4 linked regions of the Homo sapiens genome follow. The protein of the gene in region 3 binds, or shares a complex with, the protein of the main gene of each other region. Each region holds a gene or a part of one and is shown on either strand. Other genes may lie near its edges. The genes, in order: NCAPG2, SMC2, NCAPD3 and NCAPH2. A codon is read from its position in the direction of its gene.

What was found.
Region 1: the proteins of NCAPD3 (region 3) and NCAPG2 are in contact, whole or in part, in a cryo-EM structure (PDB 9F5W), measured with the Homo sapiens proteins. Residues at the interface, in NP_056076.1 of Homo sapiens: Glu1213 (codon at 3,861), Lys1216 (codon at 3,852), Ile1217 (codon at 3,849), Pro1218 (codon at 3,846), Leu1220 (codon at 3,840), Gln1247 (codon at 2,053), Ser1250 (codon at 2,044), Glu1251 (codon at 2,041), Tyr1254 (codon at 2,032), Lys1258 (codon at 2,020); in NP_001268861.1 of Homo sapiens: Phe291, Lys332, Pro333, Ile334, Trp336, Lys340, Ala341, Arg342, Arg347.
Region 2: the proteins of NCAPD3 (region 3) and SMC2 are in contact, whole or in part, in a cryo-EM structure (PDB 9F5W), measured with the Homo sapiens proteins. Residues at the interface, in NP_056076.1 of Homo sapiens: Asp31, Met72, Ile80, Pro127, Gly128, Ala131, Phe135, Pro137, Asp141, Lys235, Gln237, Gln240, Leu1121, Asn1196 (codon at 3,912), Asn1200 (codon at 3,900), Pro1203 (codon at 3,891); in NP_001036015.1 of Homo sapiens: Arg112, Ala122, Asn123, Asn124, Thr125, Arg126, Leu218, Lys222, Arg225, His229, Trp940, Asn942, Ala943, Glu944, Phe948, Arg981, Met985, Arg986.
Region 4: the proteins of NCAPD3 (region 3) and NCAPH2 are in contact, whole or in part, in a cryo-EM structure (PDB 9F5W), measured with the Homo sapiens proteins. Residues at the interface, in NP_056076.1 of Homo sapiens: Arg589, Pro591, Met629, Glu680, Arg683, Tyr684, His690, Lys724, Glu793, Asp800, Gln803, Arg804, Arg807, Gln817, Leu820, Gln865, Leu866, Cys867, Pro868, Ala869, Arg870, Val871, Val918, Ile925, Lys929, Leu932, Gln933, His934, Ala956, Asn960; in NP_689512.2 of Homo sapiens: Trp22 (codon at 2,825), Ser68, Lys69, Glu72, Tyr75, Tyr79, Leu82, Asp83, Ser86, Ile144, Ile145, Pro146, Leu147, Leu148, Met150, Ala151, Leu152, Val153, Asp156, Glu159, Asn161, Asn162, Asn163, Pro164, Leu165, Tyr166, Ser167, Arg168, Gly170, Leu173.

The regions. Positions count from the first base shown.
Region 1 is NC_000007.14:158,687,736-158,694,806, forward strand, and holds part of NCAPG2 (condensin-2 complex subunit G2), read right to left. Parts: intron 5,763-7,071; coding exon 5,574-5,762; intron 5,222-5,573; coding exon 5,107-5,221; intron 2,988-5,106; coding exon 2,833-2,987; intron 2,219-2,832; coding exon 2,084-2,218; intron 1-2,083. UniProt on the Homo sapiens protein: Regulatory subunit of the condensin-2 complex, a complex which establishes mitotic chromosome architecture and is involved in physical rigidity of the chromatid axis.
Region 2 is NC_000009.12:104,089,540-104,097,345, reverse strand, and holds the start of SMC2 (structural maintenance of chromosomes protein 2), read right to left. Parts: upstream 3,038-7,806; 5' UTR 2,869-3,037; exon of another isoform or gene 2,860-2,868; intron 2,720-2,859; exon of another isoform or gene 2,508-2,719; intron 2,048-2,507; exon of another isoform or gene 2,023-2,047; 5' UTR 1,962-2,022; coding exon 1,794-1,961; intron 1,199-1,793; coding exon 1,049-1,198; intron 1-1,048. UniProt on the Homo sapiens protein: Central component of the condensin complex, a complex required for conversion of interphase chromatin into mitotic-like condense chromosomes.
Region 3 is NC_000011.10:134,157,968-134,165,038, forward strand, and holds part of NCAPD3 (condensin-2 complex subunit D3), read right to left. Parts: intron 3,925-7,071; coding exon 3,814-3,924; intron 2,108-3,813; coding exon 1,925-2,107; intron 529-1,924; coding exon 362-528; intron 101-361; coding exon 1-100.
Region 4 is NC_000022.11:50,503,648-50,511,225, reverse strand, and holds the start of NCAPH2 (condensin-2 complex subunit H2), read right to left. Parts: upstream 3,003-7,578; 5' UTR 2,889-3,002; coding exon 2,781-2,888; intron 1-2,780. Other genes in the region: LMF2 (lipase maturation factor 2), read left to right, coding at 3,551-3,644, 4,191-4,444, 4,560-4,588, 4,724-4,941, 5,013-5,191, 5,411-5,552, 5,689-5,823, 5,892-5,997 and 6 more. UniProt on the Homo sapiens protein: Regulatory subunit of the condensin-2 complex, a complex that seems to provide chromosomes with an additional level of organization and rigidity and in establishing mitotic chromosome architecture.

The sequences.
Region 1 (7,071 bases), on a different chromosome or scaffold from region 3:
ATCTCATTCTGGCTCTGTCATGGATGGTTCCATAGTCTCAAATGAAAGAAAGCTTTAAATCTAGCATAGGTGGGTGGGAATGGAGTTGAATATCCCAGTTCATTTCACCTTCTCATTTATAGATGAGAAAACTGAGGACTCATATAGTTAAAAGGCTAAGTGTTTGTCAAGCTAGAATTTCCAAATACACAGTCTTCAAGTCATAAATACATCATGTGATGATAATTTATATGCATGCTACTAGATTATGTATCTGAACCTAAGAAGAATGAATACAATCTTCATACTCTATAGAGTGCATAAGATGCATCTATCTAGAACTCTCTCAGTGAATAGCACCTTCATCTCTTACCAGCACACCACTGCACAGAACTGGAATCCTACAGAAATGCAATACATTTTGATTCAAATGCAGGGTAACCATGCTCACAACAGGCAAGTTAAAAAAAAAAACAGTAATATTCACTGGAAGTAATCTGTTAGTACAGTACAAGATGTTTATGGTTTACCCAGAATGACTGGAAACTGACCTGACCAAATTAATGATTGATTAGGAAACTACATTTAGATATCTTAAATTCAAAGGAGACATCAATTTTTTAAAAAGGGTAGAGGTTATAACACATACATACATTTATGTCTGTTATATATCTGCACACATATATAAGTTAACAAGTACGATTCATCAACTCCTTATGTATAAGTCAACATAAAATAGTTTATTGTTTGAATCCATCATTAATTTCTTCACTCTCCCATTTCAGAACAATCCTGGAGACATGTGTGGGGCACAGGCTGTGTCCAACATCTTTGTAATAACGATGGTGCTGACACAGCAAGGATGGCAAAGGGCAGCCCTCCCCAGGGGTTCTTATCCACCAGCGCCTGGGCTGCGGTTTGATACATATTACCTCATCTGTTCCTAACAACAATCCTGTGAAACAGTAACTGTTGCTCCTATTTTACAGAACAAAACTCTGAGGCTGAAAGGCCTGACCAAGGGCACCACCTATAAAGTGAACAAAGACCCTGGGAGCCAAAGGTCTCAGTCCTAATCACATGGCCCTTTGTCTAGCAGACTGCAGATGGCTCGCCGGGGTCCAGTTCTGTCTCTGCCGCTGAGCAGCTGTGACACCTGGAGGAAACTTATTCTGTACCTCAGAGCTGGTCCTCCTCTTCCTCTGAAGCCCTTCTCCACCTCCTTCAGGGAGGAGGGATGACTTCCTCCTTCTGCCTCAGAGATGTGCCTGCTGAGCCATGAGCATCCAAATGCAAAAGCTTGTTCTAGTCTCCCCTGGCACTGCCTGAGCATGTAGTCGACGCTCAGTAAACAACTGCAGAAGGCCCCTAACACAGAAGAACTATGCGAGCCTCTCTGTAATTCTCAATTCTTTAGTAGTCATGTTAACAAAAGTAAAGAAGATTAATTTTAATAATATATTTTATGTAAAGCAATATTTAATATAACAGACAATAAAAATATTGTCTATTATATTAAGTATAGAACAAAAATTATTAATGAGCTATTTTATGTTCATTTCTTTCCCACTAAATCTTCAAATCCATGTGTATTTTATACTTATGGCTAATCTCAGTTCAGTTGGGTCCCATTTCAGGTGCTCAGTAGCCTCATATGGGAGTTGACCCCAGGACGGGCAGTGCAGCAACAGGCCAGAAGCCTCTCTGGATTTACAGGATGGGTAGAAAAAAGAAAGGGAGGATATTATGGGATGACAGTTTTGAGTACATGGCAATTAAAATGGAATTAGGGCAGAAGGCCAGATCTCATTCATAGAGAAGTGCTTTCTCAACCTTATTTTTAATCATTCTTAATTTAAAATGTAATTACGGTTCCCCTAGGTAACACACAGCCACCTGTTACCATCCAATTTAATGATGAAATAAGCAAGGACTTGTAAAATGTCTTCTCTAGTACTGCCATGCAGTAAAAATCATGTGCAGTAAATAGCTCCTGGTAGCTAAGCAACACCGAGCATGGTGCAGACAGGAACCATGTGAACACAGGAGAAACATCTATTAAGAAGCAGCTCACAAACAGATCAAAAAACAAATACCTATTTACCTCTTCTTTCTTGATATAATTAATATTTATGAAGCACTCAAGTAACATATCTTTAATTTCTCCACTTTCCTCCAAATCATAATCAAAGCAATATAAAGCTTGATGGATACGCCAAAGCCGACATACGTCTGCACCCTAGGAATGACACAAAAAATGTGATACCTTTTTCAATGAACAGTAAAGTCATATTTCAAATCAAGTATATTTTATATCATAAATAATGGTAATTCTAGTTGATTCATCAAAGATTAAAAAATAACGACAAATAAAAACAGATTTTAAAATTTGCAAATGCCCCCTATAGCTCTACAGAACATTTTTTTAAAACATAAGGAAAATAATTAAAAATCCAGCAAGTTTAAGAACTTCCTCGATGATGAAGATTTTATACATCTGAACTGTCTAGTGCAGTAGACATTAGCCACATTTCACTGTAGAGCTACTAAAATGTGACTAATGCAACTGAGGAACTGAATTTTTCATTATTTTTAACTTTAAATTTAAACAGCTTTCTGTGGCAAGTGGCTACTACGTTGAATAGCGCAGGTTTAGAATGTTAGGAAGACGTTTAAAAATAAAGTCCTAGCTAGGTGGTGCACTCCTGAAGTCTCAGCTACTTGAGAGGCTGAGGCAGGAGGATTGCTCGAGCCCAGGAGTTTGAGGCTGCAGTGAGCTATGATCATGCCACTGCACTCCATCTGGGCAATAGAGAGAGACCCTGTCTTTAAAAAAATAAAAAGTGAGCATACTGTCTTAGTCTCCAGACTCCTCCTTAGTAACATGACAAAGGCTGTCTTTCCTGTGTCTTCCTTGGCAGGCAGGCCTTTCTCCCACCAGGTAACACACAAATCCTGAATAGAACTCTGTAGTTTTCGTTCAGACTCAGGTAATGCATATAAAATACCTAAAATACAGCACAGTAATTTTCCAATTAGTAAGGCAAATTCTTATTACTTCAGAGTCAACAGTTTAGAGTATCATGACTTTATATATTATTTAAAGCTTTGCTAAGCAAATAATATTAGTTATGTTTAACTTGCCAAAGATTTATATACATTAGTTATAAAATGCAAATAATGTTAATTAAAAAACTGTTTGACGATTGTTATAAAAAGACCCTCAACAGACATAATAGAAAAGAGATTTTTGGAACTGGAAGTCTCAGAGAAATCGTATCACCAATTTTAGAAAGGCAGATGCTGAGGCTAACCAAACCTCAGTGTAACAACACCAATGGTATCTCTGTTAACACCAGAGCCAAGACAGGTCTACTGACCAATCAATAATCCACTACTATCCCTCAATGTGCCAGCCTCAAATTTTGGCTCAGAGGTGAAAAACAGTCAAAGCAATTACCATAATGAATACAAAAACTGCAGTGCTTTTATTAACAGAAAAGCTCAATAATTAGATTAATGATACTAATGCTCATAATTATAATCTGTAGGTATCTGAATGTCATTACACTAATATAACATTCCTGAATTAACTGGGAAGTTGATAGCAACTACAGTGTTAGCACTAATCATTTCACTAGTTATTTGCAGACCATACAAATAAACTGATAGTAAAATTCACAAAGCATTTGGAAGCTATTTTCATTATGATTGGGGTGACTTTTTAATAAGACACTGTATTTCAACTCAAGAATTCAGAATAAAACAATGTACTATAAAACATACATAAATCCAAGTGATGCTAAGAATAAGAAGCTTGATGAGATACTTTGTCACAACAAACTAATTACACTCGCACAGTGAAGGATGAGGGTATGTGAAAAGTTTTCTTAAAAATCATTAAGATATTTTTACATCTTTTGTAACTAAAATTTTATATATTTCATAATCAAATATTTTCATTAACTTAGACTAAATTAATAACTAGTTTTACAGTTTTGTTAAAACTTGAAAAGTACCATCATTTAAATTTCAATACAGTAAAACTCCCCTAGGAGTCAATAATCACTCCTCAGATCACGTTCACAACATACTTTAAGAAAAAATTCAGTGTCACAAATTCTTAGTTAAGTTGACACTATCTAGCAATGGTAATCACATAATCAGGTATTTTCTTCTCAACAAGTTCTTGATCATTGGTCCAGTAAGTCAGACTTCCCTGAAAAACCTGTAAATAGCAGTTAGTTGCTGAGTACTGCCCATCTCACCATCTATAACATCTGAATGGAGCTTAAATTAAACTAATTAGGCCAGACACAATGGCTCATGCCTGTAATCCCAGCACTTTGCCAGGGCAAGGTGGGAGGATCACTTGAGCACAGGAGTTTGAGACCAGCCTGGGCAACACAGTTAGATCCTGTCTCTACCAAAAAACAAAACAAAACAAAACAAAACAAAAAGCATGGGCCATGGTCCCAGCTACTAAGGAGGCTGAGGTGAGAGGATAGCTAGAGGCCAGGAGGTCAGGGCTACAGTGAGCTGGGTTCATGTCACTGCACTTCAGCATAGGCAACAGGGCGAGATTCTGTCTCTAAAAAAAAATGATAAATATAAAATAAATAAGTATTCAGGACAACTCTTATGTAAGTATGCTCCTATTCTAGCTGAAGAAAAAGAACTTGACTGCAAAGCTATACCTTTATACAACTTCTGCTACTAAATTCAACAATGCTCATGAAAACAACTAGTTTCCTTTTACAAAGTATCATTTCAGGCCAGCCACGTGGGAGGCTGAGACGGGTGGATCACCTGAGGTCAGGAGTTTGAGACTAGCCTGACCAACATGGAGAAACCCTGTCTCTACTAAAAATACAAAATTAGGCGGGCGTGGTGGTGAATGCCTGTAATCCCAGCTACTAGGGAGGCTGAGGCAAGAGAATCGCTTGAACCCGGGAGGCGGAGGTTGCGGTGAGCTGAGATCGCGCCATTGCACTCCTGCCTAGGCAACAAGAGCGAAACTCCGTCTCAAAAAAAATAAATAAATGAATGAATAAATAAAAACAGAAACAAAAACAAGTATTTCAACACCCACTTCTAAATATGCCATTTATAACAAAATCAACTCACCATTTAATATAATAACACATTCCAGTAGGGCTTCGTAGTTCTCACTTTCATTTATTACAGACACAGAAGCAAGAATCACAGATGTAATTGCATAAATTATTTCTATGCTTTTTCTCTATAAATGAAAAATCAAAGCATGAGTGAATTAAAATCATCAACTTAAAATCAGTTTTTAGCAGAAATTTCAGTTACAAATTTTCTAAAAATCAAGCCACAATTCTAGCTTATTCTAAAAAGAATTAAAGTTGAATAAAAGTAAATCATCCTAAAAGAACAGCAATATTTAGTATTAGATTAATAACAGTAGGGTTGAAAAGTGAATAAAACTACAACAGACTAAACTTCTAAAATTCTTGACTTCTAACTTCAAAATCTGTCTTAATGTAAAATTCAATGATACACAGTGAAGTTATTTTTTGACAAAAAAAAGAGAAAAACGTTTCTTATTTTTGAAAAACAAATACTACCATTTTTGAGCCATGTTCGGTTTCCATATTGTCTTCACCCTGGGCTTCCACTACCTGCCACCCATCCACTGGGCTTTCTAACAACACATCTGTCAATAAATTCTTCAGCCTTTGCCATAATTCTTCTTTCTGTTTCCTTGATAATTCATCTAGTAATTCATTTAGGCTGAAAGGATCAGAGGCCTCTTTCTGTAACATAAATAGCAAGTGTCACATTTCAAATACAAAAAATTAATCATATCCTTTTCATAATGTCATCAAAAGAAAAGTTAAGTGTTAACTTCATTACAAGTTCAAGAGTTTGGTTGCAGTATTCAAAATCCATTCCTAAAAGGGAAGAAGCACAGGGATTCTCCACCTATTCTTTCCTAGCATCCTAATCTTCAGAGTTTTTAAAATTTCACCCACTTAGCAAAACCCTCCCTAAAAGGGACCCAAATGTCCACCATCTCCATACCTAGAATTAGATTACAAAAGTAGGCTAAAGTTCAATAACAATGGCAATAATAATACTGTGGCCACAGATTCCAGCCCCAAGTGGGCCCTCAACACCACCTTCTACTCATTCCTCAATATCATTCTCTCCCACCAGCCAACAAGATGATTTCAGATCTCCTCCAACAACCCTCTAAACCCATTTCCTCTTATCTGAGATGACCTCACGTACTCTTTGATGAAGCAAATAGCGGCCCTCATCAAAAGGGCATAGAATCCAATTAAAGGGACTCCCTATAGCCAAATTTGGAACAATGTGAGCACCAAAACAGTGACAGTGATTAATTATAACCAGTTGAATGAAATAAGCATAAACGAGGCCAAGCCAACCACTCTGGGAGAGAGGGCTGCAGTGAGCTGTGATTGTACCATTACACTCCAGCCTGGGCAACATAGCAAGAGCCCGTCTCTAAAAAGAAAAAATCAATGACAGCATACTGATAATAAATATCAAATCATTAATTAATAGCACCTGCATGCTCTAGAATGTCAGTGAATAAACATAGATGCAATACAGGGTTAGAAAATCACTGTTTTATAGCCATCACAATAATTATGGACTCTGGCAGGAATTATCGGGAGATGCTGAAACAAGTGGGTGGAAGCCTGGTGAGCAGCAGGACATTACAGTGTCACCACTTTCCCACAGAGGCAGGTTCCCAGAAGAGACCTGGCGGACACCTACCCACACAGGGACGGACAGACCATGCCATGCGCTTCCTGTCTTGACAGCGCCGAGGACCTAACACTGCTAAGCAGTTCCTGCCAAAATGCACACTAAAATTTAATCAGATCCTCAACAGATGCAAATTGAAGGCTATACCACAAAAGAGCCACTTGCACTCTTCAAAACTGTCGGGGTCATAAAAAACACAGTAAGATGGAGGAACTAGAGTAAAGATAACCTCATAAGCCCTCCATCCCCCCATCCTCTCTTCCTGCTCTCCTAGCTCCTCTCCTGCCCTGGTGTTTGTTTTCTCCTCTTCTTAGCGCTCCTTCATTT
Region 2 (7,806 bases), on a different chromosome or scaffold from region 3:
TCATGAGGTCAGGAGATTGAGACCACCCTGGCCAACATAGCGAAATCCCGTCTCTACTAAAAATACAAAAAACAAAAAAAAATTAGCCGGGTGTGGTGGTGGGCACCTGTAGTCCCAGCTACTCAGGAGGCTGAGGCAGAAGAATCTCTTGAACCCGGGAGATGGAGACCAGCCTGGGTAACAGAGCGAGACTCCGTCTCAGGAAAAAAAAAAAAAAAAAAAAAAACCTTGACAAGCTGAAAACACTGCCTGACTATATTAATAACACACCTAAAAAAAAATTGAGTGGTTTCAAGTAAATCTAATATGAATCCACAATGTATTATGAACACCCCAATGCTCTACTGGGAAAAATAAAAGTAGAATATCTAAAATGAAAGAATAACTCCAACTAGACCAATTTTGGTACACCCAATCTAAGGTGCCATTAAAAGAAAGAAAGATAGATGAATGCAGGAGCAGGGAGGGAAACTGGAGCATACTTGGTATAATCAGGCAAGTGAAGGAACTAGGAACAAACATCAAGTGAAAGACCTGGCAAGATTTCACTTAGAACTAAAACACATATACTTGCACATCACTTAAACACTGAAGTAGGGAATAAGTTAGATTTGCTCTTGGTGCTCTCAAGAGGACTAGGATTAATGAATAAAATTTGAAGACAGCAGACTCTGACAAAACTTATAGCTGTTAACTTTCTAATAAGACCTGTCCAAAAACAGAATGGGTTATCTCAGAAGATTGAAAGATCTCAAGTACACAGGTGTTCAAGAACAACCAAAGAAGATTCAAATATGGTTTAAGATTTCAGCATAGCTGAGTGCTTATACTGGATGAACAACTTTTCAGCTGTCTTTCAATCCTCTTAGTGATAGAATGTGCATGATCAAGATTTTAATATAAGGAAGACATTAAGGAATCTAGTCAGAATTTAAGGCACCAATTTTGCTCATGAACTTTCTCTAGCACGTTTTGCAAAGGCATAGGGCCAAAAACCACATCAGACATAAAAGGTCTTAAGATACCCAAAGGTTTAATTGCCACTCACCTGCCTTGTTACTGTGATTTCATCATGAACCTCAAATCCTAAAGGACTTTGCTTTTTGTCAGAATTATCAAAAGTGATTGACACAGAGGCTTTGGTAATACCAGCCTGCCCATTTTTGTAAACTAAATCTTGTAAATTAGAAGCCCGAACCTAAAATAAAATATGAAAAGTGTAACAATTACAAAACTCCCTACCGTACAAAGCAGCACTAAAAATGGGTCCCTTGCTGTTGGAAAACCCACCAACGTAGTGTCCATTAAGTAGACAAGGTTAGGCAGCTGCATCCTCTGGCAAGAAAAACAAGGAAAATAGGCAACAACCTGCAATGGACACTTTTCTCTACAGAACCTTTTCAACCCTGAATTGAATTGTTTCCTATTCATTTTTTAATAAAAAGTTACTTTGCAAGATATAAGGAAATACTGTCCCAAAGATTTTCACTAGTCATTCAATCCATTAATAGGATTTGAAAAGGCATCATTACACAGGGTTGAAAATACTCTGGAATGAGACTGCTTTACAGTCAGAATGCCTGAGTTTTGAGGCACTGTTACTTCTAAACATCTCTAAGTTTCTATTTTCTCATCTAAAGGAGTAATATTACTTTCCTTAAAAGGTTGCAGTGAGGTGTAATTTACAAAAAGTATAAAAACACAAATGAAGAGAATATCGGGACGTCTCCAAAGTTCAGTGAGGATTCTCCTGCCAACTTAAATTCAAATAAATCAGAAAGTTTACACTTTACCTGAGACAGGTTGGAGATGCCCAGCAAAAAGCAGATGGAGTCCAATATGTTGGATTTCCCACTACCATTTAAGCCAGTGATAGCATTGAAGAGGGGGTCAAAACCATTGACTTCGGTCCTCTGAGCATAGGACTTGAATCCCTCTAGAATAATTGACTTAATATGCATTTTCGATACTGTCTTGGGTCAGCAAACCTCTGACAGGAATCAAACAGGCCACAAACCAGTTCTGTACGAAACAGAAATACCACCACCTAAGTGGAATGTAAACCTGGAATCATAATGAACACGAGGCAAAAACAGCAACGATAGGGTGATAGAAATAAAACAGCCACTTGACAAACTATCTTGTCTGATGTAAAGACATCGTTCATCTACTCAAAAATATACCAGAGTTAGCCACTATCTGGAAATTAAACCATTCAACTGGGAAGTCTTAACTATTTCTTCTACCCGTTTTTCCAGGCTTGCCTTCTACTTTTATCATACTCTACCTAAACAAAGACTATGGATTATTACATATCCCATTATCTTTGCCTATAATGTGCTTTTCTCTGATACTGACATAGCTTACTCTCTACTGCACTCACGTCTTTGCTCAAATGTCACCTTACTGGAGTCCTCCCTGACCTCCCTATGTCACCTCTCCACAATCCTTCACTCGGCTTTCTTTTTCCTTCATGGTACTTAAAGCTGATATTAGACGGTCATTACTTGTCTGTAAGTTCCCGCAGTGTCTTCACCTACGTCCGTCATTGCATCCCCGAATTGTGCTTGACTCCGGGAGGAGGGGAAGTCATTTAAGTATTTACTAGAGATGAGATGTATCTCATATTCTCCAACTTCTTGCTTTTACTCAGGCTTTTACCTCGCTTCTCCAGGCCTGTCTACACCTCTTCGCCCTACTCCAAGGTCGAACAGAAGCTAGCCTTTATTTCTAAGGATCACCTAAGGTCCCTCTGCCACTGGTCCCCCTCCCTACAGCCCCCGCGCCCCGCGCCCCGCCTCCCGCCTCCCGCCTCCCGCCAGGAAGTCTGGCCCGGCCCAACCGGCCGTGCTCACGCACACGCCTCACCGCTGCCTCAGGCCAGGGGCTTGACGCACCCCAAAAGCTCCTCCGGGTCACAAAGGCAGGGAACAGAACAACTCTCTAGCCGGGGCCGCTACAAAGCGAACTTCACCATAGCGGCTACAACACCTGCCACACCGCTCTCAACACCCGCGCCGGAACTATTTATTCCTTTGAATTTCGGCGCGAGCAAAGGACCCCACCTCCATTGCTTATTTCCTGTGCTGGTGCCTAGGAGCTGCCTGTCTTTAGGGTTCAATTTTTCCCCTACACTCGAAGGATTAAAGCCGCAGGGCAATAGAATGAGAGTCTCGATAATGGTAGCTCCGGGGACTCCCCGGCAGGGGCCTGGGCACTACAGGAGCAGATAGTGTATGTTCACACCGGCGTCCGGCACTCTATGGTCAGCCCCACACCTCGGCCCCGGGTCCTCGCGCTTCGCCAGCCCCGCCCCGCCTCGGTCCCTCTAGTTCGCGTTAGGCACACTGCAGACTCCGCCTTCTCCAGTCTGCGGTGCTGGCTGTGGCTTACTTTTCTCTCCTCAAAGCGACAGTTAGGAAGTGGAGAGGCATTCTATGAGTGTTCTCGTCGGTTCTGTTTTGGAAGCTTCAGAATCTTCTCGGGTTGGCTCAGATTGCTGCAAAATAAAAGCTGTACTTCTTGGGGCCAGAGAGGCACCGTCCTTCGGGGGACTCTGGCCCGCGTCCTGGCTCCGCCCCGTACTGGCCTCGGACCTCGGGGAGCGTTTTTATCTGAAGTTTCCACGTCGGAAAGGGATCGTAGTCTACCGAGAGCTGTTCCGAGCCCAGAGGAGAAATTGTGTGGTGCTAAATAGCTATTCATCTCCCTTATACCGGAAAGCGTTGTAATGATAAGCCGACCTAACCTGTTGGGGATTTTTTCTGGAAACCTTTTAAGACAGTTCATGTTATTGAGTTCTGAATATTAGGCTATATTGCAAGGGGCTTTTTAAAATCCACGTAGCAACCCTATGAAATCAGAAATTGCCCTCGTTTTACAAATGAGTTAAATGAGACCAAGTAAAAGGTTAAACAGCTTGTCTAGTAAGCTGGGATTTGTTCCCAGGCGGTCTAGCTCCAGATTGCATGCTTTTAAATACTAGGCTTCATGCATAGAATCTAGTATTATTAGCCGATCCTATTATTAGTATGTATTGTTCTTTAGGAAGAAAAAACGTGTCAGGATTGCTCACGTTTCCAAGCACGTTGATACTTAAGAGTTAGGAAGGGCTTAACTCCGAATGGGTATGGTGTTACCCTAAGTGAGGTTCAAAAAGATGGTGTGGGCAACAATGCTATTTTGGAATGGCTTGATCCTTTTGGGCTTCCATAACAAAATATCCTAGACTGGGTAGTTTATGAACCACAGAAGTTTATTCTTCACATTTCTGAAGGCTGGAATGTCACAGAATAAGGTGTGTCTAGGGAGGGGTGCTTTCTCTTTAGTGGATAGCACCTTCTGGCTCTGTCCTCGCATGGTGGAGAGGCAGAGGCCCTCGCTTGGGCCTATTTTATAAGGACCTTAATCCCATTCCTCACTTCCCAAGATGCCACTTGCTAAAACCGTCAGTTCGGGAGTTAGGATTTCAAAATGTGCATTTTGAGGGACACATTTAGACCATAGCGTAGGTCATGTTTTTAAAGTTGCTTTCTTGGCCCTGGAATGGCAATGCAGTCATCTGAATTGGTCTTAACCTACCAGGAATGGGCTTATATTTTGAAAATATTTCTCGATAAGGGAGTAAAATAAGTTGTATGGGTTTTTTGTTTAAGAAAGGATTCCTTTGTTTACTCTGGTATGCTTATCCACTTCTGTGATGTCAACCATGGGTAGTGACCTAACATTAATTTAATTCAACAGATATCTTTGTCTGCCTTGATTCCTGCATCCCCTGGGCTCCACAGCTATTCACTTGTATTGATTCTGTTAACTCTTACACATTAACTTTGAGCTGTGTCTCCTTCCTTTTATCATTTTGTGAGTAAAGAATTTTAATTTGCCAACAAATCCTAATGTGGACTTTGTCACGTTGTGAAATAAAGTGATTTTTTGGTATGGAAATATGTGTTAAGACAGACTGTTAGTCTTTGCACTTTAACAACTAGCTGATACACTTACGTCACATGGATGAAAACATACACAAGTGCACTGTTGTTGGATAAGGACTCCTGGGTGGTTAGAAGAATGTGCAGATCTAACTACTCCCATTAAGACCATTGATTAAAATGAAAAATGCTTATAAAGGTGGAGATCTCTCAGTTTTAGTCTTATTGCGTGCCAGAAGCACTAAGGAATTGCTGCTAAATATAAGACAAATGGACTTGAGGAAATCACTGATGACTAACTTGAAACTCTGCCTCCTGAGATCACACAGGTGAGTGGAAAAAACCAAGGCACAAAGCCAGTGAAGCCCCCTAATTTGGAGATGTGAGGGGTAGAAACAGAGAGTATAGGGTAGATGCAGTGTACAGAAAACACTGTTCTTGCTTCATCACCATGGATTAAAATCGTTTGAAAGCTTCAACGCTAGCGGGCAGTGTTTCAAGCAGAAATCTGGCAGCTAGTGGAGTCTGAGTCCTTATATGGAAGGCATCATCAGTACCAGCAAGGACACACATACAGCCACAAAGCAAGACCTAGGAGAAATATTTGGTGCTCTACTCTCCTAGGGAACTGGAAGGAACCTGCTCTCTCCTGGGTATACTTTTCTAATTTTAGAGTGCTAAAGAAGCTCTTCTCACAGGGACCCGAGTGAATCCTTTCTCCTTGGAACAAAGGACAAGAAAAAAAGAAAGGACTTTACCGCAGAAGTAAGGAAGACTCATTTTGTTGAGAGATTATTTTTAGGTTCAAGGAAATGAATTGATAATGACAGGAAGTTTATATTTTTACATTGGATTGACTAGCAGCACTTTTATTTTTTCAGAGAAGGAGTCTCACTCTGTCTCAGGCTGGAGGGCAGTGGCCTGGCAGCACTTTTTGAATACACTCGTGCACCACATAATATTTCAATGTCTGATTACATTATGTGACTGTGGTCCCTTAAGATTATAATGGATAATTCCTGTTGCTTAGTGATGTTGTAACATCGTAGTGCAACATACTACCCTTTCTGTTTAGAAACACAAACACAACATTGTGTTATAGTTACCTACATTATTCAGTACAGTAATATGCTATAAAAGTTTGTAGTCTAGAATCATAAGGCTATAATATGTAGGTTTGTGTTAAGTATACTTCATGATGTTTGCACAACAATGAAATTGCCTAATGAGGCGTTTCTCAGAACGTATCTCGTCGTTAGGCAACGCATGACTGTATTTTATTTCTAACGCCATATTATTTGAACTGTGGGTTCACCGAATATAACCTGTTTGACAAACTTGCAAAGAAACACAGCTAAGTATAATTTAAAATGAGGAATAGAAAAGGAGGTTATTATATTCATTCACCCAGTGGGACTGGTTAGACCCATTCATTTTAATGTCAGTGACAATATTGTTTTCTAAAATACATGTTCTGTTTGGTTCTTTGTGAATTCTGCCTCTTCTTTCATTATGATTTCTATTATTTTGTCCTTTTAATCAAGTTATATGTCTTTATTTTATCTTCTTTTCTGTTAGTTCTGTTATTTTTAGCTTTTCAGTTCCTAACTCTTGTTTACGACCTCCACTGACTCTTACTCAGTGATTTATTTCCTCATGTGGTGCTCTTCTTCAGTGGGATGGTTTTGTTTATGGGACTCTCTTACACCCTTAGTTGCAAAAGAGTCCCTTTAGACAATTATGCATTTGCTTCTGCCAGCATACCGTAGCTCTTAAAGATCTGAAGCATTTTCAAATGATAATTTCTCAGTTTGTGGCTCCTGAATTATGCAAATATTGTATATTTAGATCTGTTGCAGGGCTGCAGTTTTGATTTCTCATAGGTACCTTATGTTTTTTTTTTCCCACCCTATCCAAAGCCCCAAAGAACAAACTTCTTTATCGCTTCCCCAAACTAGTAGATTGCCTTTTTCCAGTTCCGGTAGCTGGCTATTCCTAAGGCTCCAGGTTTTACATAAGGGCTTAGTTCCAGCTCACCTGCCTCATCAAAGCTCAGCCTTGTGCTTGGACATTAAAACTCAACTACTGGCTCCTGAGGCATATAGCCAAGTATAAAATTTTGGAGGGCTACCGCAGTATCTGTTCTGCTTTCTGCTCTTCAATTTTTAAAATTTATTTCAGGCACTGAGAATTTCCTTTTTGCTGTTTTTTGTTTTTACGGTTGTATATGGTTTATAGAACAATAATTATATTTTATCCATTATTTCTATGAGTTTATAAAGGAAAGCTCAGTCGACCATGTTGGAGGAGGTCTTCTCATTTACTTTTCGTGAAGAACATCAGTGATCTTTGTTTTGCTCCTCCTGAGCCTTCCTTACAGAGCTCACATTCTCTATTCAAAGTCACTTTTCCTAAAAACTAGTAATTACTTCTCTAAAGAAGTCTGGTACTAGGTCTTAAAAAAGTATTTTCAGCCAGGCACGGTGGCTCATGCCTGTAATCCCAGCACTTTGGGAGGCCAAGGTGGGCAGATCAGGAGGTCAGGAGATGGAGAATATCCTGGTTCCAACATGGCGAAACCCCGTCTACTAAAATACAAAAATTAGCTGGGTGTGGTGATGCATGCCTGTAATCCCAGCTACTCAGAAGGCTGAGGCACGAGAATCGCTTGAACCCAGGAGGCGGACACAAGTTGTTGTGAGCCTAGATCGCGCCACTGCACTCCAGCCTGGTGACAGAGCTTTTTCAAAAAAAAAATTTTCATGTACTACTCATGAAGTAAGTTCTATTCTTACTTGTTTTATATTCGTTTCTTTCTGTTTTTCCAGCTATCCTTGGCTTTTATCACTTGCATGCTGGTTAATAGCCAGAGCTACCT
Region 3 (7,071 bases):
GAAAGGCAGCACTCCTAAGCTCCGACTCCGATGCCTGCTCTTTGACTCCACGGCTTTCTTGACAGAATTCAGGATTGCAATGGTGCTCAGGGACATGGGCCTGTGGAGAACAGCCACAGCCGCTGACTTTCTCACTGCAGACCACTGCAGAGGTGACAGTGCTGCACTGTGTCCCCGCGTGCCTCCTCACCGGCGCATCCCTCACCACCCTCATTCAAACCTCCCAGGGCACAGTGTGGAGCGGGGTGGCAGGCCAGACAATGACAATGACTTTCCTGCCCACGCTTGGGAATGGCAGGGACGCCTCTGAGAACATCGCCACAGAGAACCAGCCCTGATGTGGCCTCCAGGGGCTCTTTACCTGGCTTTGGGCAGCAACCTCTGCAATGGCCCTGTTTCAGGTGTAGGAGATGATACTGCTACATGGCCAGCACTTGCCCTGGGTGTGCAGGGCTGGCTCACGGCAGGTGACATGGCAGGGTTTTCTTGGCCAGCAGGAACTGGCACTGTTTCTAAACACAGGGCAACCTGGTAGAGAAGATAAAGAGTATGTACATTCTAATACTTTTTAAGTTTTCAAAAACGGATATATGATAGTTGTACATGGTTGGGGGTCCATATGAGATTTTGATACATGTGGACAACGTAATGATCAAATCAGGGTAATTGGCATCTCCATCACCTCAAACGTGAGTATCTTTTCTTTGTGTTGGGAACATTCCAATTCTTCTATGTACTTTGAAATATACAGTAAATTGTTAAACTGTAATATCTCCACTGTACTGAATACTAGAACTTATTTCTTCTATCTAACTGTATTTTGGTACCCATTAACCAACTTCTCTTCATCCCCCTTCTCCCACCCCTTCCCAGCCTCTGGTAATCACCAAAAATCCACTCTCTAACTCCGTGAGATCAACCTTTTTGGCTCACATATATGAATGAGAACATACAATCTTTGTCTTTCTGTGTTTGGCTTATTTCACTTAATATAATGTCTTCCAAGTTCATCCATGTTGCAACAGATGACAAGATTTCACTTTTTATAGATGAAAAGTACTCCACTGTATATGCACCCCATTTTCTTTACCATTCATCCACTGATGGACATTTGTTTCCAAATTTTGCTATTGTGAACAGTGCTGCAATAAACATGGGAGTGCAGGTATGTCTTCGACATCCTGATTTCCTTTCTTTTGACTATACAGTCAGCAGCGAGGCTGCTGCCTCATATGGTACCTCTACTTTTAGTTTTTTGGAACCTCTATACTGTTCTCCATAGTGGCTGTTCTACTTTCCATCCCTACCAACAGTGTACAAGCCATTCCCTTTCTCCATTTTAACACTTTATTGGAATAGAATCTTCACGTACTATGAGCAAGTCCATAAGTAATGTACTTTGAAGCCATATCAACCCTGGGTAAGTTGAATTTCCTTTTCAGAAACAGAATACTATGAGAAAGCTGCCACTTGTAGATGCTGTGGCATGACAGAAGAGAAAAAGGAGTATGCTACTTTGTGCTCATTGGTCTTTCCTACAAGAGATCTGCCTGCATTCCTCAGGACGGTGAGCAACAGCTACTCCTAGAAATGGCCGTGTGCCGGTCTGCTCTAAAGAGGGAGTGCTGGGGGAAGATGCGGACACACTGACACACCCTGGCAGACCTAGGATCTATAGTCACCAGCTACTGCTGCTGCCAGCTCGCTTCCTGCACCACGTCCTCATGGAAGGGAGGTCTGGAGCACAGTAAATCCATCACAGACAGAAAGGCACGAGGGAGTGGCCAACAAGCAGCACTCTCGAGGCCTTCGGGCTGACTAACCTCTGATGACGGAGATCTTGAGAGGTGCCAGACAAACGACAGACTGGTAGCAGACAGCAGACTGGACTGTCTGGTCACAGTGCAGTGGGCCCCACACCTACCTGTGCCACAGGTGCCACCTCAGCACCTCCAGCCGTCCCGGCCACATCTGCATGTTTTGCTAGCTCCTGCTCCTGGACCAGCTGTTCCTGGTACTTCTTCATGTCATACTCAAGCTCTGATGCCAGCTGTTTGTCAACTGCAAAGAAGTCCTTGAGCTCATCTCGGTAATCCTGCATCACCTCCTGAAACAGAGCCAGGAGCATCCTTTCATGTTTTCTTGAATAAAAACGTAAAGCCCTAAACCCCCACGACACACCTTCGCCTGTGTAACAAACCTGCACATCCTGCACGTGTACCCCTGAACGCAAAATAAAAGTTAAGAAAGAAAAAAGCCCCCCAAGTCATGTTGCTTGATAAATCATAGGAACAATAGGACTGACATTACTGAAAGCAGATGATTTCCATTCCAGTAACTAACAGGTACAATGGTATATTTGGAGCAAACACCACTGGCCACACAAGCAGAAAAATATGTGAGTAACTAACAGTTCTCTCTCTTAGGAAGCATCCTGGCTATGTGGCAGTTAATGGGCAATCTCTCCCAGGTTCCCAATGGGAGAAAGACATGCTCAGACACAGCCTCTGGAGCAAGTCCCAGGATGCATGGATCTAAAAGCTGCTCATCTGTCTACATTAGCCTCCCCATTGGCTCTCAGGGGATTCCAACTAAGGCTCAAATCCCATCTTTGTGTCTTCTTCTGAAGATTTTACAGAAAACCTTTTCTCATACCTAGGGAAAAACATTCTTAGGTCTTAAAGAGGGGTGCCAGGGGCAAGACCACTTTGCTAAGAGAAAGAATCATTCCACCTAACAGTAATAGGGAGAAAAAGACACTGCAGTTCCAACTGGGAGGGAAGTCTCAACAAAGAGAAGGAATCCATGCACTTTTCCAGCTGCCACTAGGAGTGGGTTCCACAGGCCAATGAAGAGACTCCCTCAAGCTACTGACAACAAGCAACGTGTGGCCATCCTGTGTGTGTGCTCACAAGCAGGAGGAAGGCTTATTTTTCTTAAGTGTTTAAGTAGTCTATGTAGGATCAAAGCTCTGTTTTTGTTTTTTTTTTTCCTTTCTAGGGTCTAAAGTCAGGCAATAAATACAAGAATATTTGGAAGTTTTTATTTTTATCATACAATGAGACTATCTTTCCTACCTTGGCTTCCTAGTATAAAAAGCTATTTGAAAATTTATATTCAATGTAATTTTTGTTGAGGCCTTTATTGGAAAAAAAATTGTAGCATTTTTTTGAGGAAGAAAAACACATAATGTGAACAGAGCTATAACTGCTGAATTAAAGAAAAACTATGTTGCATTTATTTCTTAGTAAAAGATTTTGCAAGAAAGGTCTGAGGCCCCACTTAGGTCCGCCCTGCAAGTCAACACATCCTGGGTTTGCTCCGACTGAGCTCCTCATGGTCCCCTTGCTTGACAAAGAATTCAGCCTGGTGATGGCAGCTCCGAAGGCAGCTCCTGCAGGGCAGTTATTTCCTGACCTTGTGAATCTGAGTCAGTGCAAAAGGTAAGCACCCTGAAATCAAACCCGAAGACTCACTTTCACCTTACCCCCAAGCAGCATGAACGAAGATGACTGTGTTCTTGACCCCAGCTGGGAAAGTTTTCCAGATGGACTTGAACTCCATTAAGGGAAGACGTGCTTGGCACAGTGGGCCGGCTCTTCACGGCCCTGGCTGCACATCCAAGGGAAAGAGCGGCTTTGGTGGAACCCACAGCCAACCCCTAGCTCCACAGCAGTTACCAAGGTAATGTTGGGTTTGCAGAATTTGGGGTTCTAATCATTCACGGATTGCCTGCACTGTCATAACTGGCAGAAGATCCTAAGTAATGAACTGGTAGGACAACAACCACAAAAGCACAGGCTCCACCCTTACCCTGAGATAGTGCATGAGTTCCCGCAAAGCTGGGATCTTATTTTTCTCCAGCACAGTCTTCAGGGAGATGATAATTGGAATAATATTTTCTATGAAATTCCTCTTCTGAACCTGGTAACACAAACAAAGACATGTTTTAGATGTATGAACTTCTGAAAGACAGGCCTCTCCTTGATCTAGTTCTTTGAGTAGAGCCACCCTACCACACTATGTAAGTTTATTTTTGCTTTTCATTATGATACTGGATGTAGAGGACCTCTGCTTTTCTCTGGGAGACTTTGTAAGCATTACCTCAAAACACTCTGAAGGCTTTGTAAGATAGGGTGGGGACAAATACTACTCATATATTCTAAATGGGGAAAAAGAATTAGAAACATGTTGAGTAGCTTTTGACAAAAGCCCCAAATCTCCACAGAAGACCCTGAGGGACCTTGGCTCTTGCTCCACCTTCAGTCCTCAATTCAACACCCTCCCCTTGGAACAGAAGTCAGCTCGTTCTGGCTACCCAGAGGGACACTTCGTATTCCTGCTGGTGAAGGGACAATGGTCTAAAAATGGCTAAGCATGAAGACAGCCAGCTCTGTCTCTCTCTCTGTGTACACATCTACAAAATACTATGAATTTATATATATAGTACCTGATTTGACCAAGTCTTCACACTTTACCTTGAATGATCACTAACCACAAATATTCTCCAGTGAATCTCTTTAAATTAAAAAAAAAGCACTATAGTAGCCCACATATGCAAGATTTATCCTCCTGAAGCTGAAACTACTCTTTTCCTTCTCATTTAAAGTCACTAGTGTATGTTTCTTCCTTGTAAACTACTCATTTCTAAAAAGTCTTATCAGAGTTCCTGAAACAGAAGGACAACAAGTAGAGAAATAAGCAATTTAATAAACCCAGATGTGAGCAGATGTTATGTTCAGGAATAGTCTTAAGAAGTGGCTTCCATGCATTCACTTGACAAGTATTATCAAGCACCTTCTCTGTCCAGGCAAAGAGCTAACCCTCTGAGGATGCAAAATGAAGCTAAGCATCCCTGCCCTCCAGCCACTTCTAGAAAGTGTGTGTCTCAAGGGAAGAGGTGTTAAGTGGCAGGGTGTTAGGGAATTTAGGTATGGAGATGGGATGCCTAAGGAGTGCATGGCCATCTGATGGATGATCCTGAGGATGTGTGGAGAAGGGAGGATGGGTGGGTGAGGGCGCTGCAGACTTTAGACCCAGAGGCAAGAGCACACGAGTAGGGGGCAGCTCGCAACTGAGGTGCAGATGGCAATTTGAAGTGGAGAGGTTAGAGGTGAGGATGGAGGGAGGTATGGGAAAGGTGGAAGGCACACCAGAAGTTCTTGTTTACCTTGAAAAAGAAGAATCAGGGTTTATTCAGAAGATGACAGGAAGCCACCAGCATAGTTTTTAAAGATTTCACTAGTGAAGTATAACATATGTAATAAATTTACCCATTTTAAACAAACACTTCCATGAGCTTTGACAAAAGTCTATATGGAATAACCAGCACTACAGACCACTCACCATCTATCACCCAAAAGCTTCCTGCCACCCCTCACAGTCAACCTGCCTTTAGTCTGTTTCAGATATAATAAAATGATCAAATTTGTACTTAAGAAAGACTGCTGGGCTGGGTGTGGTGGCTCATGCCTGTAATCCCAGCACTTTGGAAGGCCGAGGCGGGCAGATCACGAGATCAGGAGATTGAGACCATCCTGGCAAACACTGTGAAACCCCATCTCTACTAAAAATACAAAAAAACTAGCCGGCCGTGGTGGCTGGTGCCTGTAGTCCCAGCTACTAGGGAGGCTGAGGCAGGAGAATGGCATGAACCCAGGGGGGCAGAGCTTGCACTGAGCAGAGATCGTACCACTGCACTCCAGCCTGGGCAACAGTGTGATACTGTGTCTCAAAAAAAAAAAAAAAAAAAAAGTTAGCCAGGCACAGTGGCAGGGGCCTGTAGTCCCAGCTACTCGGGAGGCTGAGGCAGGAGAATGGCGTGAACCTGGGAGGCGGAGCTTGCAGTGAGCTGAGATCGCGCCACTGCACTCCAGCCTGGGCGACGCAGTGAGATTCTGTCTCAAAAAAAAAAAAAAAAAAAAAGAAAAAGAAAGAAAGACTGCTCTGGCAGCAAGGTGGTACATGGCCTGTGACAGAAAGAAACCAGAAACAGAAAGGGTGGTAAGGAAACCATGGAAATGGGATAAGCTTAAATAAGGTCAGAACTAGAGAGATAGATTGGTAAGAGAAAACAGGCAGGATCTTGTGGCAAGATATGATCAGAGTCTATATCCTTGGAGTCAAAAGCCTCCAGAGGCCAGGTGGGAAATACACATTGGCAATCCAGGCTAGGAGGAAAACACAGGCCTGCAGAGGCCTGTGGCAGCCAAGCTCTGCCCCAGTCATTCAGATCCAAATTCTACACTTCCTGCCAACAAAAGCCTCAGCCTGACACACCAGACTCCAGTCTGCAAGAGCACCATAAACTGTGGGAGAAAGAGGAGATGAAGAGCAGAAAGAAGAGATGACTGAGGGAGTTTTGACAGAGTAAGTCAGAGACACCCGGAGCACGTCCTGGCAGCAGGGGGACCTGAGCTCAGGCTCATGAGAAATGCTGGAGTGGGAAACAGGTTTGAGAATTGTCACCATCTGGCAAGAGTTAAAGCCATCAGTAAGAAAGAAGTCAGCACCAGAGCATGGCACCAGGATTCCAGGGAGAACACGGAAGCCAGTAGATGGTGAGAAGAGTGGGACACTCACTTGTGAAATGAGCTTAGGGGAGCTGCACACTCACTTGTGACATGAGCTTAGGGGAGCTGCACACTCACTTGTGACATGAGCTTGAGGGAGCCGCATAATCACTTGTGACATGAGCTTGGGGGAGCTGCACACTCACTTGTAAAATAAGCTTAGGGGAGCTGTACACTCACTTGCGACATGAGTTTAGGGAGCTTCACACTCACTTGTGACATGAGCTTGGGGGAGCTGCACACTCGTGAAATGAACTTAGGGGAACTTCACACTCATGAAATGACCTTAGGGGAGCTGAACACTCACGTGTGACATGAGCTTGAGGGAGCTACATACTCACTTGTGACATGAGCTTAGGGGGAGCTGCACACTCACTTGTGAGATGAGCTTAGGGGGAGGGGCACACTCACTTGTGACATAAGCTTAGGGGAGTGGCATGCTCACTTGTGACACAAACTTAGGGAAGCTGCACACCCACTTGTGAGATGAGCTTAGAGG
Region 4 (7,578 bases), on a different chromosome or scaffold from region 3:
GCACCACTGCACTCCAGCCTGGGTGACAGAGTGAGACTCCATCTCAAAAAAAAAACATATAAATAAATAAAATTTTTTTTGGCTGGGCGCGGTGGCTCATGCCTGTAATCCCAGCACTTTGGGACACCGACACGGGCGGATCACCAGGTCAGGAGATCGAGACCATCCTGGCTAACACGGTAAAACCCCGTCTCTACTAAAAATACAAAACATTAGCCGGGTGTGGTGGCAGGTGCCTGTAGTCCCAGCTACTCGGGAAGCTGAGGCAGGAAAATGGCGTGAACCCAGAAGGCAGAGCTTGCAGTGAGCTGAGATCATGCCACTGCACTCCAGCCTGGGCGACAGAGTAAGACTCCATCTCAAAAAAAAAAAAAATTTAAATGGTTTATGATAAACATTCTAAAGTGTGTAAGGTGCTGAGATGGAGAGGACTATTTTAGATAGGGTGGTCAGCTGACATTTACACTAAGACCTTAAGAATGAAAAGGACTCAGTCAGCCAGGCGTGGTGGCTCACGTCTGTAATCCCAGCACTTTGGAAAGAGGCAGAGCTGGCTGGATCACCTGAGGTCAGGAGTTTGAGACCAGCCTGGCCAATGTGGCGAAACCCATCTCTACTAAAAATACAAAAATTAACTGGACGTGGTGGTGCATGCCTGTAATCCCAGCTACTCGGGAGGCCAAGGCAGGAGAATTGCTTGAACCTGGGAGTCGGAGGTTGCAGTGAGCCAAGATTCTGCCATTGTACTCCAGCCCGGGCAACAGAGCAAGACTCCATCTCAAAAAAAGAAAAGAAAACAAACTCAGTCATTGAAAGAATATTCCCAGCCAGGTGTGGTGGTGCACAGCTATAGTCCCAGCTACCTGAGAAGCTGAGGCAGGAGGACTGCTTGAGCACAGCAGTTTGAGACCAGCCTGGGCAACACAGTAAGATCCTCCTCTCTGATTTTTTTTTTCTCCTTTTCCTTGCCATATGAAGTCCCTCTTTATTTAAAAACAAAAAAGAGGCCGGGCGCGGTGGCTCACGCCTGTAATCCCAGCACTTTGGGAGGCCAAGGCAGGCGGATCACGAGGTCAGGAGATCGAGACCATCCTGGCTAACACGGTGAAACCCTGTCTCTACTAAAATACAAAAAAATTAGTTGGGCGTGGAGGCGGGCGCCTGTAGTCCCAGCTACTGCAGAGGCTGAGGCAGAATGATGTGAACCCAGGAGGCGGAGCTTGCAGTGAGCTCAGATCGCGCCACTGCACTTCCGTCTCAGAGTGAGACTCCGTCTCAAAATATATAAATAAATAAATAAAAACAAAAAAGAAGATTCCCAAGTGGGGGCAGAAAGCATGAAGATCTTCCACCAAGAAAAAGCTTGGAGGGGCCATAGGTTGACTGGTTCAAAAGAACAAGATACAAAACAGCCCAAAATGAGGCTAAAATGGAGAGCAGAGCCAGGTTCAGAGAAGGAAATTTGGGTTTTATTCTGGGCATAATGGAAAGCCACTGAGGGGTTGATTTTAGGCAGAAAACAGTGCTGTGGCCAGATTTTAATTTTTAAGAGTCACACTTGCTGCTGGTTGGAGCACGAATTGGACGGGACAAAAACAGGGATAAGGGAACCCAAATAGGAAGGTTTTACACAAATCCAGGCCAGAGACAATGGTGGCCTAGACCAAATAAAATGGACAACAGATGAATTCAAGTGATATTCCGGTGGTATAACTGATGGAATTCATGGATGAACTGAGTGTTAAGCATGGGGCTTCACTATAGCCACATTTAGCTTTTGCTTTTGGTTGAACAGCGGTGTCATTTTCCGAGATGGGAAAAGCTGGGGTTTAAGCAGAAAAATGAAGAGTTCCACTTTAAATATGTTAAATGAGATGTTTGCGTGACACCCACTAGATGTCAAGAGAGCAGCTGGATATGTAAAGTAGATTTGGAGGAAAGATCTAGGATGGAGCTGCAGATCTGGTAGTTGTCCTAATACAGGCAATATTTAAAATCATAGAAATAAATGACACTTCAGGGTAAATGCATCAGAAGATGACCTAGGCCCCATCCTGAGGAACTCAACACTTAGAGACTGGATAGAAAAGAAAAATCAGGCAATGAAATAGGGAAAAAAAATCCTACCACCATGTTTCAAAAAGAAAGGAGTGGCCAGTCCAACAAATGCTGACTTATGTCCCTTGGATTTGGTAGAATGGAGATCACTGCTGATCAAGACAAGAAACATTTAAGTGTCGTGGACGCCAGACTGAGCTGGGCTGAGGAGTAAAAATGAAGCGCAAATATGGAGCAGACAGCTTAACACAGGTCTAGACAGGGCTGTCAAACATGGAAGAAACACTAATCGCTAACAGGATAGAGCATGGCAATAGCTTGAAATTGGTTTGAAAATCCAAGATAAAAAATTCCTCTGACATCGTGATCCAGACCTCTCAAACACACAAGCATGCTCGCAATAACTGCAATAAAAGCAATAATGCTTTCTAGTCTATTCCACTACGTTAGAGAAACGGCTGGTCACCACCCACTCAATCATTCACGGCTCGCTGACGGGTAGAAACCTGCAATGACAGGTCCACGCTAATCCAACAAGGGATGATTTGGGGAGGCAGAGATGGAGTTTGAAAAGAAGCAGGGAGCCCGAGGACCTGCGCGGCCAGAGCGCCAGATAGCCATAGGCGTGGAGACGGTGGGGCGCCCACAGCCCCGGGCCCGGAGCCCCCGCCCCGCAGCCCCACCCGCCGGCCCACCCCGCGTCACTCCCCCGCCGCCCTTACCTCCTCCAGATACTCGCCCAGCTGGGCCGCCACGTCCACCTCCCAGTTCTTGGTGAGGTCGCGGATGGGCTGCAAGAGGTGGGCGAAGCGCGCCTCCACGTCCTCCATGTCCGGGAGGGAACGGGCGGCAAAGGGACCGCAGGGCTGCCTTCCGAGGGGTACGGCGTCCTCAGCCCGCCACTAGTTCTGGCGCCATTTTGCTGTTCCCGCCCAGGAAAATGCGTAGGCGCGGCGTCGCGCGCATGTCTATGACGTAACGTGGGCAAAAGCCAGAGAGGCGAACCCCGGCGCCGCGCAGCGGGAGCTCACCGGAAGAGTCGCGGGGCGGGGTCGAAGCCTCCGGGAGGGGGGGGTGGGCGGAGCTTTGGGCTGCCACCAGTTTGGACGGGAGGGCTTTTGGGGCCGCCGTGGGTCGGGCGGGGCGGGGTGGGGCGGGGCCTGGAGCTGCCGCGGGCGAGCGGGCCGAGGAGGCGGGGCTTGGGGGCTGCCACGGGTTGGGGGGGCGGGGCGGTGAGGAGGCGGGGCCTGGGGCAGCCGCGGGCGGGCGGACGGGCCGAGGAGGCGGGGCTTGGGGCTGCCACGGGTTGGGCGGGCGGGGCGGTGAGGAGGCGGGGCCTGGGACTGCCGCGGGCGGGCGGGCGGGCCGAGGAGGCGGGGCTTGGGGCTGCCACGGATTGGGCGGGCGGGGCGGTGAGGAGGCGGGGCCTGGGGCTGCCGCGGGCGGGCGGACGCGGAGGGCGGGCCCTGCTCTAGCGGGCCGCGTAGCGGACATGGCGGGCTCCCGGCTCCCGCGGCAGCTCTTCCTCCAGGGCGTGGCGGCCGTCTTCATGTTTGCTTTCGCTTCCCTCTACACGCAAATCCCAGGTGAAGGCACCCAGGGTGGGACACCCCCAGCCTCGGCGCGGGACCCTATGTCCTCTTTTCTCTGTGCCCGGCACTCACGCAGTCCGGGGTTGGGAGTGAGGGCCAGGCCTTGGCGTGGGGTAGGGGGCGGCGGTTCGTGTCCTGCAGGCCGCTGTGGGGGTAGGAAGGTGTGCGGTGATCCATTTCCCGTAAGGCTCTGGACTCTGACCTGGGGTGGGGGACAGAACTCTGAGAGAGGTGGGAGAGAGGCTTCCTCCCAGACCTGGTGGGACAGGTAGGAGATCGGGCTGAGACCTGGAAGAGGGCAGTGGGCTCTGCTGGGTGGGAGGCCCTGACTCAGGTAGTTGAGCAGGCCTCTAGCCCTGGGACGGGGTTTTGACAGGTCCCGACCTGGGGGACGGGCTCTGGAGGGACTGCAGACTCTGACCTAGGGATGGAGGTATCCGCATGCTCTGACCTAGGCTGGGGGATCTGCAGGCCCTGACTCAGAGGTAGTCTAGTCTGCAAGGGCTGTCCAGGGCCTGGCCATGACATGCCCTCCCACAGGCCTGTATGGCCCCGAGGGCATCCTACCTGCAAGGAGGACGCTGCGGCCTCAGGGCAAGGGGCGCTGGCAGCAGCTGTGGGAGACCCCGACGCTGCTGTGGGAAGCGCCGAGACTGGGGCTGGACACGGCCCAGGGCCTGGAGCTGCTGAGCCTGCTGGGTGCACTAGTGGCCCTGGGAGCCCTGCTGCTGAGCCCACTGCGCCACCCTGTCATCTACTTGCTGCTTTGGGCCGCCTACCTGTCAGCCTGCCAGGCAAGTGGGACCTGTGACCAGCTCACTCTATCTCCAACCCCCACCACCCACCCCTGCCTCTACCTTACCTGAGTCCACAGACACACCCGCTCCCTGACAGCCCCTCTCTCCGCAGGTGGGCCAGGTGTTCCTTTATTTCCAGTGGTGAGTGACGGCTGGGCCTGGGGCTGTGGGAGGCTGGGTAGGGGGTGGGGGAGGGCTCTGCCCTTCCTGGGAGGACTTTCCGAGGGAAGCAGCTGTGTGGGGAGGGGCTCTTGGTGCTATTTGCTCTCCCCATAGGGACTCCCTGCTGCTAGAGACTGGCTTCCTGGCCGTGCTGGTGGCCCCGCTGAGGCCAGCCTCCCACCGCAAGGAGGCCCCCCAGGGCAGGCAGGCAGGGGCCCTGCCCCACGAAGACCTCCCCTTCTGGCTGGTGCGATGGCTGCTGTTCCGCCTCATGTTCGCCTCAGGCGTGGTCAAGCTGACCAGCCGCTGCCCTGCGTGGTGGGGGCTCACTGGTGAGGGGCCCGGTCTGGACCTGGGGTAGTCTGGGGGCTCGGCCAGCCCTGACTCCTGCCCTCGCCTGCAGCCCTCACCTACCACTACGAGACCCAGTGCCTGCCCACGCCCGCCGCCTGGTTCGCACACCACCTGCCGGTCTGGCTGCACAAGCTCAGCGTGGTGGCCACCTTCCTAATTGAGATCGCTGTGCCGCCCCTGTTCTTCGCCCCCATTCGACGCCTGCGCTTGGCTGCTTTCTACTCGCAGGTGGGTGAGGGCCGCAGCTGTCAGAGAGAGGCAGACAGGGCTCGGCCTTCAGCGCTGCTCAGCGTGCCCTGTTGGGGACAGCGTGGCTCCCGGGGACAGCTGGCAACCGCTGTTGGGAAGGCCTTGTAGCAGAGGGATGCACCCTGCAGGGTGGAGGTGGGTGCCTGCCACGGGGCCAGGCGTCAGTCTCCGGGAGCACTGAGAGCGGGCCGCCCCCAGGTGCTGCTGCAGGTCCTGATTATCATCACCGGCAACTACAACTTCTTCAACCTGATGACGCTGGTGCTTACCACTGCGCTGCTGGACGACCAGCACCTGGCTGCTGAGCCTGGCCACGGCAGCCGCAAGAAGACGGCCACCTGTGCGTGTCACTTGTCCAGCCCCCTGCCCTCCCAGGGGTTCTCCCCTCCAACACCCCCACAGGACTCCCACTCTAGCTGCACCCCAGCCCCCTGGCTGGGGACCCTCTGCTGACCCATGACTGTCCTGCCCCACAGCCTGGCCCAAGGCCCTGCTGGCCACCCTGTCGCTGCTGCTGGAACTAGCCGTCTACGGGCTTCTGGCCTATGGCACTGTGCACTACTTTGGCCTGGAGGTTGACTGGCAGCAGCGCACCATCCACTCCAGAACCAGTGAGTGCCGACCTGGGGGGGCCAGAGGGCAGGGGCGGACCAGTCCTCACACCCCCCTCCTCCACCAGCTTTCACCTTCCACCAGTTTTCTCAGTGGCTGAAGACACTGACGCTGCCCACTGTGTGGCTGGGTGTGGCCTCCCTGGTCTGGGAGCTGCTGAGTGCCCTGTGGAGGTACATGGCCCAGGAAGCAGGGAGGGGGCACAGGTGTGCAGGGCCGGCCTGACGACCTTGGGTCCTTGCCCACAGGTGGACCCAGGTGCGGGGCTGGCTACGGAAGCTCAGTGCTGTAGTCCAACTGTCCCTTGTGGGCACTGCGACCGTGGCCTTGTTCCTGATTAGCCTGGTGGGTAGCGCTGCAGGGCTGGGGGATGGGCTGGGGGCAGGGCAGCCCTGAGAACCTCCCACCTGTCTCCAGGTGCCGTACTCCTACGTGGAGCCCGGGACCCACGGGCGCCTCTGGACCGGGGCCCACCGCCTGTTTGGTGCCGTGGAGCACCTACAGCTGGCCAACTCCTACGGCCTCTTCCGCCGCATGACTGGGCTTGGTGGACGGCCTGAGGTGGTGCTGGAGGGCAGTTACGACGGCCACCACTGGACGGTGAGCCCTCCCAGGGCGGGCAGGGTGGTGGGGCCCAGGTCAGCGGGCCCAGCTGACCTCGGCCTGCCTGGCAGGAGATCGAGTTCATGTACAAGCCTGGGAACCTGAGCCGGCCGCCCCCGGTTGTGGTGCCCCACCAGCCACGCCTGGACTGGCAGATGTGGTTTGCAGCCCTGGGCCCACACACGCACAGCCCGTGGTTCACAAGCCTGGTCTTGCGCCTGCTGCAGGGCAAGGAGCCAGGTGCGGAGCGGGCTTGGGGGGTGTGGAGTGGGCTGGGGTGGAGCGGGGTGGGGAGGGGAGGGGCAGGGCGGGTACTGTGGGGGCCACGCTGATGCCTCTCGCTGCAGTGATCCGCCTTGTCCAGAGCCAAGTGGCCAGGTATCCCTTCCACAAGCAGCCGCCCACCTACGTCCGAGCCCAGCGCTACAAGTACTGGTTCTCCCAGCCTGGGGAGCAGGGGTAAGGCTGGGCACCGGGTGGGGTGTGGAGCCCGGGGTGCAGGGGTAAGGCCGGGCACCGGGGGGTGTGGAGCCCGGGGTGCAGGGGTAAGGCCGGGCACCGGGGGGGGGTGTGGAGCCCGGGGTGCAGGGGTAAGGCCGGGCACTGGGGGGGGTGTGGAGCCCGGGGTGCAGGGGTAAGGCCGGGCACCGGGGTGGGGTGTGGAGCCTGGGGTGCAGGGGTAAGGCCGGGCACTGGGGGGGGTGTGGAGCCCGGGGTGCAGGGGTAAGGCCGGGCACCGGGTGGGGTGTGGAGCCCGGGGTGCAGGGGTAAGGCCGGGCACCAGGGGGGGATGTGGAGCGTGAGGAGCTGAGGAGCAGGGGTAAGGCTGGGCACTGGCGATGGGGTATGGAGCCCGGGGTGCCTCCAGCTTCTGAACATCGGGTCCTGCTGCAGCCAGTGGTGGCGGCGCCAGTGGGTGGAGGAGTTCTTCCCATCCGTGTCCCTGGGGGACCCCACGCTGGAGACGCTGCTCAGGCAGTTTGGACTACAGGTAAGGGGGTGTCAGCCAGGCTGGGGGAGGTGGCAGGGGTGACCCCAGCCTCCCGGGGTAAACCCAGTAAGCACTTCCCCAACCTCCCTCCCTCCCTCCCTCCCACAGGAGAAAAGCCCACCTCGCACCCGCAGCGCCAACAGCACCCTGGCCCAGGCCC